2 linked regions of the Homo sapiens genome follow. The protein of the gene in region 1 interacts with the protein of each later gene in a pairwise test. Each region holds a gene or a part of one and is shown on either strand. Other genes may lie near its edges.

The links. Proteins that work in one complex are often made in the same cells at the same time.
Region 2: the proteins of CARF (region 1) and ZBTB38 interact in binary tests that used the Homo sapiens proteins (3 or more experiments, as listed by UniProt).

What each region holds. Positions count from the first base shown.
Region 1 is NC_000002.12:202,907,623-202,915,288, reverse strand, and holds the start of CARF (calcium-responsive transcription factor), read right to left. Parts: upstream 3,015-7,666; 5' UTR 2,187-3,014; exon of another isoform or gene 2,175-2,186; intron 1-2,174. Other genes in the region: ribosome biogenesis protein WDR12, read left to right, coding at 3,813-3,853, 7,330-7,424. UniProt on the Homo sapiens protein: Acts as a transcriptional activator that mediates the calcium- and neuron-selective induction of BDNF exon III transcription. Binds to the consensus calcium-response element CaRE1 5'-CTATTTCGAG-3' sequence.
Region 2 is NC_000003.12:141,371,469-141,378,503, reverse strand, and holds part of ZBTB38 (zinc finger and BTB domain-containing protein 38), read right to left. Parts: intron 1-7,035. UniProt on the Homo sapiens protein: Transcriptional regulator with bimodal DNA-binding specificity. Binds with a higher affinity to methylated CpG dinucleotides in the consensus sequence 5'-CGCG-3' but can also bind to E-box elements (5'-CACGTG-3').

The DNA of each region.
Region 1 (7,666 bases):
AATCCCAGCACTTTTGAAGGCCGAGGTGGGAAGATCACAAGGTCAGGGGATCGAGACCATCCCGGCCAACATGGTGAAACCCCTTCTCTACTAAAATACAAAAAATTAGCCGGGCATGGTGGCAGGCACCTGTAGTCCCAGCTACTCGGGAAGCTGAGGCAGGAGAATCGCTTCAACCTGGAAGGCGGAGGTTGCAGTGAGCTAAGATAGCGCCACTGCACTCCAGCCTCGCGACAGAGGGAGACTCTGAAAAAAAACAAAAAACCAAAAACAAAACAACAAACACCACCACCACCACCAAAAAACCCTCCAACTCAAAAAATAAAAAAATAAAAAAAAGCACTTTTTAATTTTCAGGGAAAAAAAATCTAAGGCTGGTGTTCACAATGTCAATTTTATTTATGGTTTATTCTCACTATAAGCTTCCCTGCAATCCATTTCTACCCATGTTTTACTCTGCACAAACTTTTTACCTTTTTGCTCTGATTTTTTGTTTGTTTTTTTTTTTTGAGATGGAGTTTCACTCTTTTTGCCCAGGCTGGAGTGAAGTGGCGTGATCTTGGCTTACTGCAAACTCCACCTTCCAGGTTCAAGCAATTCTCCTGCCTCAGCCTCCCCAGTAGCTCGGATTATAGGCACCCCCCACCATGCCTGGCCAATTTTTGTATTTTTAGCAGAGACGGGGTTTCACCATGTTGGCCAGGCTGGTCTCAAACTCCTGACCTCAGGTGCTCCACCCGCCTCAGCCACCCAAAATGCTGGGATTAGGCTGCTCTTTGAGAGCTTTACAAATTTATTTAATCCTTACAATGACTCTGAGGTAGATCTTCTTGTCTCTGTTTGTAGATAAGAAAACTGGAACTGTCAAGAAACTTGCTTAAGATCACAGAGTGCATTAGGCTTGGATCCATAATCAAATTGGAAAAAAAGAAAAACACAAAGAACAATTAAGACTCCAAAGCCCTAATGCATAGTCTTTGTATCCTATCACACTGTGGCATTATATATATAAAACAAAAAACTTTATAATAAAGAGAAATGTATTTTCCAAACTGTGGTTCTCCAGATAACAATGTGTCTCCATGAGGACCATATAGTAAATACATCCCATAAAAAATGATTACCAACCAAAAGCTTGCAATTAATGTTCCAACTAAAGAAAAAGACTCAAAGTAAAAGCATCAGCTATCCTAGGTACTGTTTGGAGGCAACACCAAACACGACACATAAATCATTGTTGAAAAAAACCGTAAAACATAATGCTGGGTATTTAGTTATGTTGAATGCTAAAACTAATCTTTCCTTAACTAAAGGTCTCCGTCAAATGAAAAGTGTATTTTAGTCAAGTCAGGATTTCTGTTTTGCAAACTGAAAGTCTTATATTATTAAGCATATATTCAGGTTATTTTCCTGATCATAATTTTCAAATCAAATTAAGATCAAACTCTACTGTCAGGTACTGTATATTCTCATTTTGATAAATTTCAAATTAATGATAAAAATGTATTAACCTGCTGGTCAATTATACATTTTATAAATATATTTTAACCAATGACATATTACCAGTAAGTACAGATTCAACGGCAAGATTTCATTAAGAAAGTGTTTCAAGCTTCAGATGCCCAAGACTTATTTAATGTGTAAATCCTCACCACTACAATAACCACATGGTTAAACGATCACCACTTCCATTAGCAAGCTCAAGCCTAATAAGTGATCTCCTGGGACTTCAGCACAGAGGTTTTCTAATTTTATTCCTCCACTCAATGTGGCTATTCTCCCTTATCTATTCACGCTGGCAAAGCTTCTAGTTAAACTGGAATTAGTAACTATTTGATGATAATAATTAACATATACTGAGTGCTTCCGATGCCGCAGTTAATTCTTATAGTTGATAAAAGTGTGGCACAAAAAGGTTAATCAAGTAGCAGAGGCAGGATTTGAACCCAGGAATTCTGGTTCCAGGGCCCGGATTCGGAGCTACAAAGGTGAGTAAACTGAAAAGAGTCCTACTTTTATTGTCATTGCTCTCTAATAAAAATTATTTTTTCTTCCAATTGTTTAAATCTCTTCTCATTCTCTATTTAAATATTAGGCGTTCATTTAAACATTAGGCGTCTACCTTACAGTAGGACATCTTTAAACAACGTAAAAAAGGAAAGCTTTGTCTTCACCTGCACACATACCGGTCTGCCCATAAATTTTGCAATCCAGTTCTGCCTGATTCTAAACTGCTTGTCTCTTGAAGCGAATGCCTTAAAAAGTGACATTGGGATCAGGATAGTTATCTCCATCCATCCTCCCTCAGAAAAACAACTATATTAGAGTAATTCTTGGGACCATTGAGAACAATACACAGGCCTTTGGGTAACTTCAAGACAAAAAAGGCAAAAAGTCGGGGAGAAGGTGTGGGAGGATGATTTTCCCCTTCTAAACGTAAGGTATAAAAGGGCTCAGAAAGCGGAAAAAGAACCCTAAAAAGCAAGGTGCGGGACGGCGTGAGGGACCACACATTGGGCGCTCCGCCCAAGGGGTCCGGCTCCTTCTCCGCGGCGATGGCGCGTCCTTGGGCTCAGCAACCCTCCTGAAGACACCTAACCTCCTCCTTCTCCAGCCTGCCCCTCTGGGGCCTGCGAGCCCCGTCCCGGGCCGGGGGTCGGAAGCCGTGCCATGTGGGACCCCGAAAAGGCCCCCAAGCTTGGCGCGGAAGGCGCCGCCAGTGACCGGCTGCGGCTGGGGGCGGAGGCCGGCAGTTGCTCGGAGCTCCGGCGGGTCAGGAGGTGACGGGAGGAGGAGGAGGCAGGAGGAAGACGGGGGGTTGGGAGGTAGCGTCCGGTAGGTCTGCGCAGACAGCGCTGCCAGACCTCTGACTCCCCCAGTCCTGCCGCCGCCGATAGCCCCACAAGGCGACATGGGAAGTCCGCCGGAGCAGAGGGGAGAAAATTCAAAACGAGTCTACTCAACCTCGTCTTGGCTCCGAGGCCCCGCCATGGAGACCAGCATAATGCGCAGGCGCGCCCCACCGGGAGCGCGCAGAGCAGTCCCACGACAGTAGGACCACTATCGGCCACCGTCGACCGTTTCCTCTCTCATCCGTTCTTTTCTTTGTATTTCCGCCTCTCGCCTCTCTCTAAAAGCCGCAGTTAGAGGCGAGATTTAGGAAAAACCTCTGCCGAGTGAGCCTCTGGTTGGGAATATGTATGAGAAAAAAAAACTGGCAAGGCGTTAGTCAAGCAAAGCTGAAGGCAGAGGAAATTTGATATCTGGCTGGAGTCTAGAGGATTTAATGCAAATAAGATACTCTGAGGGCAGCGTGGCAAAAAAAGACTACAATTCCCGGTGGTCACAGCGTTTGAGAAGCGATGCTTTCTGAGACTTGTAGTAACTAGGAGCTGTGTTTGAACTATCCAGGCTCAGGACAGCCTCTTGAAAAAAAATTTTTTATTAATAAAGCGGATTTGAGTGGGATCTTTTTCCTAATCGATTACGGGCCCACACGTATGGGAAGAATTCTAACAATGATTAAAGGGACATGCTACCTTTACGACTATCCTTTTCTAATCGATGACTCCTAAATCTAGGAGTAGGTAGTCGATGTTTGTGGTCTGGGCGTCTGTAGAAGGGCAACCTCGTGCTTTCTGCAGAGGAGACCGGAGGGCAGAAGGCAGAGTCCAGGCTTAGACTGCAGTTCCTCGCTTACCTGTGCAGTCTAATTTTGAGCTGCCTCTTTGTAGTCTTAAAAGGCAGGAGCTTCGTGTTGTGGGTCTGCTAACCCGTACGTTTCCGTGGGCAAGTCGTGTGTACTCCTCGCCATGGCTCAGCTCCAAACACGCTTCTACACTGATAACAAGAAGTAAGTAAGCGTTCCAGCCTTCTCTCCCTTCCCCAGGTTCCTTTCCGACCACCCCTTTGGTATGACCTTGTGGATCCCTGGTTGTTTCTGCTGTCACCCCCACCCTTTTTTCTGAGATTACCTGCTTTCTAACCAGCTTCGTAGGTTCTATATAATTTGAATTGTGAGTGTGGAGGAGGCTGAAGGGCTTCAGGTTTGCTTTCTGAATGAAACATTTTATATGTGTAATTTAAAAATGAACAGTGGGCCTTGTTATAGGGTGTCTGCTAGTGGTGGTTCACAGTTTTTGAAAACGGAAAAAAAGTTTTTGAAAATGAAAAAACATATTTACCATTTATGTATATCTATATAGATATATAAACATTTTAACCAGTGGTCTCAAGGTCTGTTAGCACTCATTCGAAAACTAATTATATGCTGCCTTGTGGTATATATTGCATTGTTAGCTTTCTTTGTGTTTGCCTGGTCTCTTCCAACTATATTGGAAGTCTCTTGAGGGCAGGGACTATATATTAATTAAGCTTCTTGGATTGGCTGAGTCAACAAAAAATGTCAAATTTTTCAGTGAAAATGATAATATTTGTCGTGTTAATAAGCTAAAGTTAGCCATAAACTAGGAAACTCCCACCTGAGTTACATCTGTGGTTTTGTTTGTAGCTTTATGAGGAGAGCTAGTAAATCATCTTCTCTCCCCTTGTGTTGTTGCTGAAAGTATACATAAATCGTATTATCAATGCACCTGAGTATATGTACTTACTTACATACATTGCCTTAATACTTCTCTAGGAATGTGGTGATGCATTAACATAACCACTGTGTTTTTTAATTGAAAGTAGGTTTTTTTGTTTTTCTTAAAATAAAATTTTTTGAAATATGTGGGGCTTTTTTTTGTTTGTTTGGTTTGGTTTTTTTGGAGACAGAGTCTCACTCTGTTGCCCAGGCTGGACTGCAGTGGTGGGATCTTGGCTCACTGTAACCTCTGTCTCCCGGGTTCAAACAATCTTCCCGCCTCAGCCTCCAGAGTAGCTGGAATTACAGGCATGTGCCACCAAGCCTGGCTAATTTTTGTATTTTTAGTAGAGACAGGAATTTGTCTTGGTGGCCATGCTGGTCTCGAACTCCTGGCCTCAAGTGATCCGCCCACCTCGGTCTCCCAAAGTCCTGGAATTACAGGCATGACCCACTGCGTCCAGCCTTGAGATAATTGTTGATTCACATGAAGTTGTAAGAGATAATAGGCCACTGTGTTTTAACCCCTGAAATGAATGGATACATGTCATATGTGTGTGTGTGAATTTAGGCCCTCCAAAAGGTAAAAAAATGTAGAAATTAAAATTCTTTGCCGAGTGCTGTGGCTCATGTCTGTAATCCCAACAGTCTGGGAGGCTGAGGAACGCAAATCGCTTATCTCAGGAGTTTGAGACCAGCCTGAGCAACATGATGAAACCCCGTCTCTACCAAAAATACAAAAAATTTGCCAGGCATGGTGGTGCCCACCTGTGGTCCCAGCTACTTGGGAGGCTGAGGTGGGAGGATCTCTTGAGCCTGAGAGGCAGAGGTTGCAGTGAGCCAGGATCAATGCAACTGCACTCCAGCCTGGGGAACATAGTGAGACTCTATCTCAAATAAATAAATAAATAAATAAATAAATAATAAAATTCTTGCTTTTTCTTTTTGCTTAATATTATGGTCAGTAAAATGGAGGCGGGGGGCTAATATAATTGTCACACACACACACAAGAATATACATATATGTGAATTATATACATAAATATATAGCTATAGCCTTATTGCTCAAAGTGTGGTTTGAGGATCATCAGCATCATATTTGCAAAGTTGTGCAACCATCACCACAGTCAATTTTAGAACATTTTTCATCATCCTTGAGCTGTTTGTTAAATAATACCCCCAGCCCTAGGCAACCACTGATCTACTTTCTAGCTCTGTAACTTTCTCTCTTCTGGACGTTTTGAATAAATGGAATTATATAATGTGATCTTTTGTGACTGGCTTCTTTCACTTACTATGATTTTTAAAAAATGGTTTCATTATATCATAGTATATATTAGCACTTCATTCCTTTTTGTGGCCAAATAATAGGCCATTGAATGGAGGTACCATATTTTTCCATTCATCAGCTGGTGGGCATTTAGGTTGTTTATACCTTTTAGCTATTATGAATAGTTGTTATGTGAACACTCGTACAAGTTTTCGTGTGGATGTATGTTTTCGTTTCTCTTGCATATATGCTTAGGAGTGGAGTTTTTGGGTCAGATGTAATTCCATGTTTGAGTTTTTGAGGAACTGCCAGACTGTTTTCCAAAGCAACTGCACCATTTTACGTTACTGCCAGCAATAATCAGGGTTCCAATTGCTCCATATTTTCACTGACACTTGTTATTAGCTGTCTTTTTACTTATAGCACCCTAGTGGATGTGAAATTATATTTCATTGTGTTTGATTAACATTACCTGGATGACTAATGATGAGCATTTGCATGTCCCTATTGGGCCATTTTAAAATTTGTGTTGTCTTTTTATTATTGAGTTGTAAGTGTTCTTAATATAGTCTAGATACAAGTTCCTTATTAGATACATGATTTGCAAATATTTTCTCACAGTCTCTCTTATAAGAGTCTCCTAATCTGCCTCCTGTCATGTGTTCCTCTATTTCAGTGCCCATTGTGCAGCCAGAAAGATCTAACTAAATAAAATCTGATGATACTTCTAATTTGCACTGCTGTGATAGTTCTTCATTACCCACAAAAAAGAAGTAAAAATGATTTCACATGATATATAAAGCACTCCATGTGTATCTCTTTAGCCTTTGGTCACTTTGGAGCAAAGTCAGATTTTCTGGAAGTGGCTGGGCAGTTTAACAACTCCTAGCTATTGTTTTGATGTTCTCTCTGGTTTCGTCCACACTGCTTCTTCCAGCCTACCCTTCCCTCACCTGGCAAAAACTCACTTCTCTTTTGAGACAGGGTCTTGCTGTGTCACCCAGGCTGGAGTGCAGTGCAGTGGTATAATCTCAGCTCACTGCAGCCTCGACCTCCTGGGCTCAGGCAGTCCTCCCACCTCAGCCTCCCAAGTAGCTGGGACTACGGGCACATGCCACCACGCCTGGCTAATCACTTTTCTAAATGTTGCTTAACAGTTATCTTTTCTGTGGATCGTTTCTGGCCCTGCTCCCCTGCCCTCCTTTTCTGTGGTTAAAATGACCTATGGTGTCTTTGTTCTTTTTATACATGTCACCTAATGGCATTGTTCTTATATAACTTCATTCTATTTGATTACTAAACTTCAACCTCATCTTAGAACAGAGACCATGTTTTAATTCATTTTTGTTTACAACATGTAGCAAAATGTCTGGATGTCTGGCATTTATTTACCCAATAAATGTATGTTGAATTCGTAAAAGCATGTTTGTTCAAATATCTGTAGACTTGATCTTGACATATCATTTCCTTTTTATAGATATGCCGTAGATGATGTTCCCTTCTCAATCCCTGCTGCCTCTGAAATTGCCGACCTTAGTAACATCATCAATAAACTACTAAAGGACAAAAATGGTGGGTATATATGCTTAGGAGAGGGCACAGTGTCCCTAATTATTCTAAAATGCATTAAGTTTTTAGTTCCTTTTTTGGCCTTATGATACTGTATGAATTTTGTAGTGGTAAAATTTGTAAGTTATAAAGTACAGGTTCTTCTGCTGGATGATACTGTAAATACTGCTTTGAAAGAAAAGTTTTCAGAAAAAAATTTCTGTTTAATCTGTTTTTAAGGCCATGTGGAAATATGGTGGTTGTAG
Region 2 (7,035 bases), on another chromosome or scaffold:
CACCTTCCCCCAGTGTTGTCTTACATCGCTGTAGTACTTGGGCTAAACCAAGAAACAGATGCTGGTATAGTTCAAATAAACGCAGATACAGTCTTATGTGATTTTACCAGTTTTTACATGCACTCTGTGTGTGTGTGTGTGTACCTGTATGTCTACAGTTCTATGCAACGTATCACATGTGCAGGCTGGAGTGATGACCATCACCATCAGAATAGAGAATAGTCACCACCACAGTTCCCTGTGCTCCTCCTCTGATAATCACACCCATCCTGACAACCACTGATCTGTTCTCTATCACTGTAATTTTTTTTTTTTTTTGCTTGTTGAGACAGGGTCTCGCTCTGTCACCCAGGCTGGGGGTGCAATGGCAAAATCATGGCTTACTGCAGCCTCAAACTCCTGGGCTCAAGCAGTCTTCCCATCTCAGCCTCTCAAGTAGCTGAGACCACAGGTGCACGCCCACATATCCCGCTAGTTTTGTAAATTTTTGTAGAGATGCGGGTCTCCCTGTGTTACCCTGGCTGGTCTCGAACTCCTGGGCACTCCTGCCTCAGCCTCCCAAAGTGCTGGGATTACAAGCATGAGCCACCGTGCATGGCCTATCACTGTGATTTTGTCAGTCCAAGAACGTTCTCTAAATGGAATCATGTAGCATATAACTCTTTGAGATTGGCTTTCAGCATAATGCCCTTGTGATCCATTTGAATTGTATGTAAAGAGCACATGCCTTTTTATTGCTGAATAGTATTTCAAGGTGTGGATGTACCAGTGTGTTACCCACTAACTTGCTGAAAAACATTTGGCTATTTTCCAGTTTTTAGGTATTACAAATAAAGCTGCTATAAATGTTCATGTAAAGTTTATTGCGTGAACATAAGTTTTCATTTCTCTTGTGTAAATACCCATGAGTAGGATTGCTGGATCACGTGGTAAGTATATGTTTAACTTTTATAAGAAACTGCCAAACAGTTTCCTAGAGTGGCTGTACCATTTTACATTCCTACAGGCAATGTAGGAGAGATCCAGTGTCCCCACATGTTTGCCAGCATTTGGTAACCTCAGTATTTTTTATTTAAGCCATCTACTAGATGTGTCGGGCTCCTTTTGATGGGCCACAGTCAAGAAGGCAGTTAAGCTCTGTGGCCTTCTGAGCTTAGCTGGGGTGACCTCAGATGTCTCTCATTGCTCCAGTTTTCCTGGTAGCTGTCTACACAGCAGTTTGGGCTGTCTGGCACTTAGGCGATGGAAAATGGGATGGTCTTTCTGGATGGGGGGGCTGAGTCTTTGGGTTTGCCCAGTTGCTCCTGACTGCAGTGGTGGGACATTGCTATCTGGGGATGCTGGGCCTCTTTGAGGCAGTGCCTCTTGGCCCAGCAGGAAGACTTGATACCAGTGGTACATGCTCCCATGGGGTAGGGCAGGTGAAATGACAGCTGTGGGGCAGGAACAGAGTTTGCCTGGGCCAGGGTCTTCCTGTAGCTTTGGCCAGAGGCTGTGTGAATACTTTTAATTTCTCAGGTTAGATCGTTATCAGCATAGTGTGAGAGGAAGTGGGACATGGAATCAATGTAGAGAGGCAAGGGTGGGACCACCAGTAGCACTTGTCAAATCTTGGGACCCACTGAACAATCTTTGCCCTTGAACTTTGTACTCTGTGACCACCCAAGACTCTCCAGCAGCATGTGGACACCTTGTCTGGATGCCATGGAACTCCTATTTTTGTCTCCTGTGGGTGAGATTTGGAAGCACTGCTGTCACCACCACATGGGCTTTCCTGGCCCAGGGGTCCAGGTCTCGTGAGCAATTAGAATGTCATCTGAGTATCAGAGGTGCTTCACTCAAGAAAGTTGTGCAGGACAACAAGGTGATGGGTTTTACATAAGGCAAACATTATAGTGAAGACTTGAACCGGCCCAGGCATTCTTGGAAAGTCACCCTCCATCTGATTCAAGGTACCTCTGGTTCAAGGGAGGTTGTAGACTTTTCCAGAACTCTTACTCATCATGACCCTGGAGCCATGAGTTTGGACTAGGAGGCCAAGAATCAGGAGAGTAGTGATCCTGAACAGGGATAACCTTGAGATAATGGAGACTTGCATGGGGCAGTGAAGCTTGGGGATCATCAACAAAATTCCCTGGTGGCTAAGCCCTGGGAGGATCCTGTGGAGGAGCTCCTTTGGGTTCTGGCTCTTGTGTGTCACCAGGTGCCTTTGCAGGGGATCAGCATAGATGTAGGCATGGAGGAAACTAAAGTTGATTTCAAGAACCTGAACGTGAACTGGGGCGGGTAGGGAGCTGAGCAGTCTGTCCAGGCAGAACTTGAAAGTCAAGTGATGCCTTGGTGGGCTCTGGAAATTGAGGTGGTGGGATGAGAGGAAGCCGGGCAGTCAGACACTGTCAGGTGATCAGTGGGTGTGGGTTGATGGGTTTCAGCAGGGTTATGCAGGCAGGATGAATAGTCAGACTTCCTCTTAGAGGATGGTGAGAGTTTAAAGAAAATGGTTTTTTGTTGCTATAATTGTTTTTTCCATTGTTTCCTAAATTTCCATTTTCAGGTTCCTCCTGCTCTGGCCTGCCGCCTCTCAGGCTGTGCTCCTACTCTCCTGCTGTCAGAAGGCAGCCCAGCACACAGCACCTTTCAGATTTAAAAAGGCAGGCACGGCTTGGGGCAGGTACCTCCCCTGACTGTGAGGTCACACAGTGGGACTCCATCCTTGAGGCCAAATCCTCAGCAGTTCCCCTCTAGCTCTTGCTTGTCTTCCTTTCAACTCATCCCTGCCTTGACCTCAAATTTGCCCACATATTTTAGTCTGGCACTTGCCCTGACCCTGCTCCGCTGTCTTGGTTTCTGACCCCAGATCCCACCTCCTACTCTGCTCTTGTGATGCTGATCACATGGATGCTGCCTGCACGGCTGCCCTCTGTCCTCCTGGGTCCAGCTTCTTCAGTGCTACCACCTCAGGGATCAGGGCACACCACAGTCTGGCCCCATTAGGTGACCAAGATGGGCACGTGGGCCCCTTGCTAGGTCTAGGCTGCCCAAGAGTGTCTTGAAGTACGGGCATGCCTATCTGAGGGCAGGTAAGAGCTCCTTGGCTGAGGCAGGGCGTTGCCTCAGGAGTGAATCTTCTCATTGGCGCCTTTTGTCTCTTACCTAAAGGTTGGGTGACTCTGGGCCCTTTGTCTAGTTCAACCTTTGCCATTAAATCTCTGAGTGACCACCAGGAAGTAAATGAACCATTATGGGCCTCAGTGATTTCATGTGTACAATATGGTTTCTTGATTCCCTAGCTAATAATCTTTTTACTACATCATATTACAGTTAAAGGAAAATCTAAAAATCAGAAGCCAAAAAAAGACTTTAAGTTAAATTCTGGCATAGACATACTAGCTCAGAGTTTCCTAATTTTTTTTGTCTAATAAATGTTTGCCAACTGAATATTTGTTGAACTGAATGCAGCATGTCAATAGTTCTCAGGCATTAATGCAGAAGAATTGGGAGGGCAGGTTAAAATGCATATCCCCAGGCTCCTCCTCAGAGCTTCCAATACCACTGGGGCCTAGCAGCATGCATTTTAATGTGAGAAACTAAAAAAGACCAAGGTTTTGAAATAGACATTCGTACCTTTCTAGGGGCCAATTCACCAATATGCATTAGAAACTTTAAAAATAGTAGAACACTAAAGTGAATCAAAATGTCCAACAACAAAAAACTGATACATTAAAATGTATCAGTGCAATGGAAATAGAGCCATTAAAAATCATGTTTTCAAAGACCATCTAGTGATTTGGTAAAATGTTTACAACATAATGTTAAATGGGGGCAAAACACCACATAAAATACCATCTCAACAATTTTTAACATTTTGATGTATTTTTTCCAATTTTTTTCTTGTATATATTCTTCTCTCTTTTTAAAAAGGAGAGAATGGGGTGGGGTTGGGGTGAGGGGTTATACTAATGCTCTTTTGGACAAAGATGAGGGGTCCACTCTCTCCACTCTGGCTTGGAAGGCACTACCCAAGGTCAATGCCTCCGTGGAGGAGTTTCCAAGCCTCCTTATCCCAATGCACTGGGAGCCCCATAGAATGCCAGGAATCATCTTCTTTTGGCAGAGAGATGACTCATCCATCATTCCTCAAAGGTTTCAGTGAACCCCAGGTTAAATGTCCCTGTGAATAAGATCAGAAGCCTCTCCATGGGGAGTCTGGCCTACAATCAAACATGCTTTGGCTAGTTAGAAGTGATGCTAAGGCTCCCAGATGAAAGTCAATTTAGAAAGACAAAAAAATCTTTAAAATAATGATAATAACAATATCAAAAGTCAAAGCACCAATACTGACCATAATTATGATGATTATTTTTTATCAACACTTTTTTTTTTTTTTCCTCTGTTGCCTAGGCTGGAGTACAGTGGCCCAGTCGTGGCTCACCACAACCTCCGCCTCCTGGGTTCAACCAATTCTCATACCTCAGCCTCCCAAGAAGCTGGGATTACAGGCATGTGCCACCAAGCCCAGCTAATTTTTGTATTTTTAGTAGAGGCAGGGCTTCACGATTTTGGCTGGGCTGGTCTTGAACTCCTGGCCTCAAGCAATCTGCGCACCTCAGCCTCCCAAAGTGCTGGGATTTCCGGTGTGAGCCACCACTCCCGGCCTTTATCAGCAGTTTACCTTGACATGCACTTTTCTAAGTTGCCCATATCATTTTGCATATATCACCTACTTATTCTGACAGAGTCTCAGCATTACATTTTCTAACAATACTATTTTGGAGGTAGGAGGGAGCTTTAAAGTTCTGATGAAAACCAGAAGCTTCTTGAGTTAAAAACAAAACCCTGAAGTGTGGTATTTTCCAACTTGGTTCTTGACAAGAAATTAGGGGATTTCAGTGTGAGAAATTATAAAGCCCTATTACTATGAATTCTTAGTTTTGGTGAATATGATGTGGTATTTCTGCAAAACTCTCTAAGGAGAGTGACAGAACATTCATGATGCTGACCCATGGGGAGAAAGGAGCTTGCACACCTGTGCTATGACAATTCTAAAACCTCAGGGATTAAAATACTCAACTAGTGTAAGAGCTGCCTGTGTGAGACTGTGTGCTCAGTCCACATCTGCTCATCATGGCTCAACAAGGCCAGGCTCAGATCTTTAGATGACCTAAGCTCTGAAAAGACTATAGTGCCTCAAATTTGAATTATTACTCCCATGTGAAATTAAAATAGAAAAAAATAACAAAATACAAAATTAAGGTTGAGAAAGCTCAACAAAGTCTAACTTTTCCCAGGCTGTCTCCTTTGATGCTTTTTTTGAAATGTCAAATATCAAAATATTTACAAAATGTGTGTTTGTACACAATCCTGCTTTGCTGATGTTGTCTGTGAGGTCACTCAGCATCCAGTGGTCACAGGGATCTATGGCTTTCTTTCAAACACAAAGTGTTGACAGTAGTGAAATTCTGGTACCTGATGTGGTGGTCTTACTCCCCTTCCTGTAGTAATATGCAGCTAGAAATTAGAAATCAGGAGGCTGGCCCCCTCCCCCAACCCTAACACCATTCATATGTCAACTACTGCATACTTAGTGCTTTGAGGAGTCATAACAGATGGTAGTTGAAATTAGCAAGCTGTGATTAGCCATTCTCCCACATGAATGGACCCTGATGTTGACTGAGACCTTTGGCTCTGCCCTTCCTGAAAGACTCTGTTAGGCTAGGACTTCCAGCAACACATCATCCCCATTTGGCTCCAGCTTTTGAAATCTGGCACATATTCTTAACTTATTCCTTCAACTGCACCCTTCTAGCAGGCACTGTATTCCCCATTCACCTGGTCTTTTTTTTTTTTTTTGGAGATGGAGTTTCTCTCTTGTTGCCCAGGCCGGAGTCCTGTGGTGTGATCTCGGTTCACTGCAACCTCTGCCTCCCAGGTTCAAGCAATTCCCCTGCCTCAGCCTCCCAAGTAGCTGGGATTATAGGTGTGCGCCACCCTGCTCGGCTAATTTTGTATTTTTTTTTAGTAGAGATGGGGTTTCACCATGTTGGTCAGGCTGGTCTTGAACTCCTGACCTCAAGTGATCCACCTGCCTCGGCCTCCCAAAGTGCAGGGATTATAGGCATGAGCCACCATGCCCAGCCCAACCTGGTCTTATCATTAGCTTATACCACTAGCCCAGCCAGCTCCCCGATCAATAGACACTTTCAGTTCCTAACAACTTGGAAAGACAGACTTTCAGAGGCTGAAGTATTTTTGCAGCAACTCATCTTGTTATTCTATTCCATTCCTCCTCAGCTCCATCCTAATGTAAGGGGACTGGGCAGAGGCTAGGCAGCCATAACAGGAGAGTAGGCCAGGCATCAGCCTCTGTCAGATATCTGAGAAGCTGTGGCAAATTGGCCAGTAACAGGTATCCCCACACAACAGACAATACATGCTCTTCAGGGTGTGGATGTGGGTGCCAGAAAGGTCAAGTCCAGGGGCAAAAGTCAATCAGAAACCAGAGTGTTTAGTCAGATATTGACAAAACTAGAGAACTAGGTACCAGGCACCTCAGGCAAAGACTTGAGTTCATTTTTATTTCACACCTTTAAGTCTGGGGCATCACAAGGCACCCATCATATGGTTTATATTTACGAATGAGGGGAATACTTCACCAACATCAACAATGGTTAGAAGGTTACATAAAATGTTAAACTTATTAAAAGTTCTCCAAACAGAGCTTACAACTTTACCACTTATTATTTCAGTAAATGTTTTGAAACTTTTCCTGAAAATAAAAAGCTAGACATATATATCACATCTTTTGGGGTAGCATTAATAGCCCCAGCCTGAGACTTTTTAGTCTACTTTTAAATGTTTCTCGGCTGGGCCCGGTGGCTCATGCCTGTTATCCTAGCACTTTGGGAGGCCAAGGTGGGTGGTGGATTGCTTGAGCCCAGGAGTTCAAGACCAGCCTGGGCAACATGGTGAAACCTTGTTTCTACAAAAAATACAAAAATTAGCCAGGCATGGTGACACATGCCTGTAGTCTCAGCT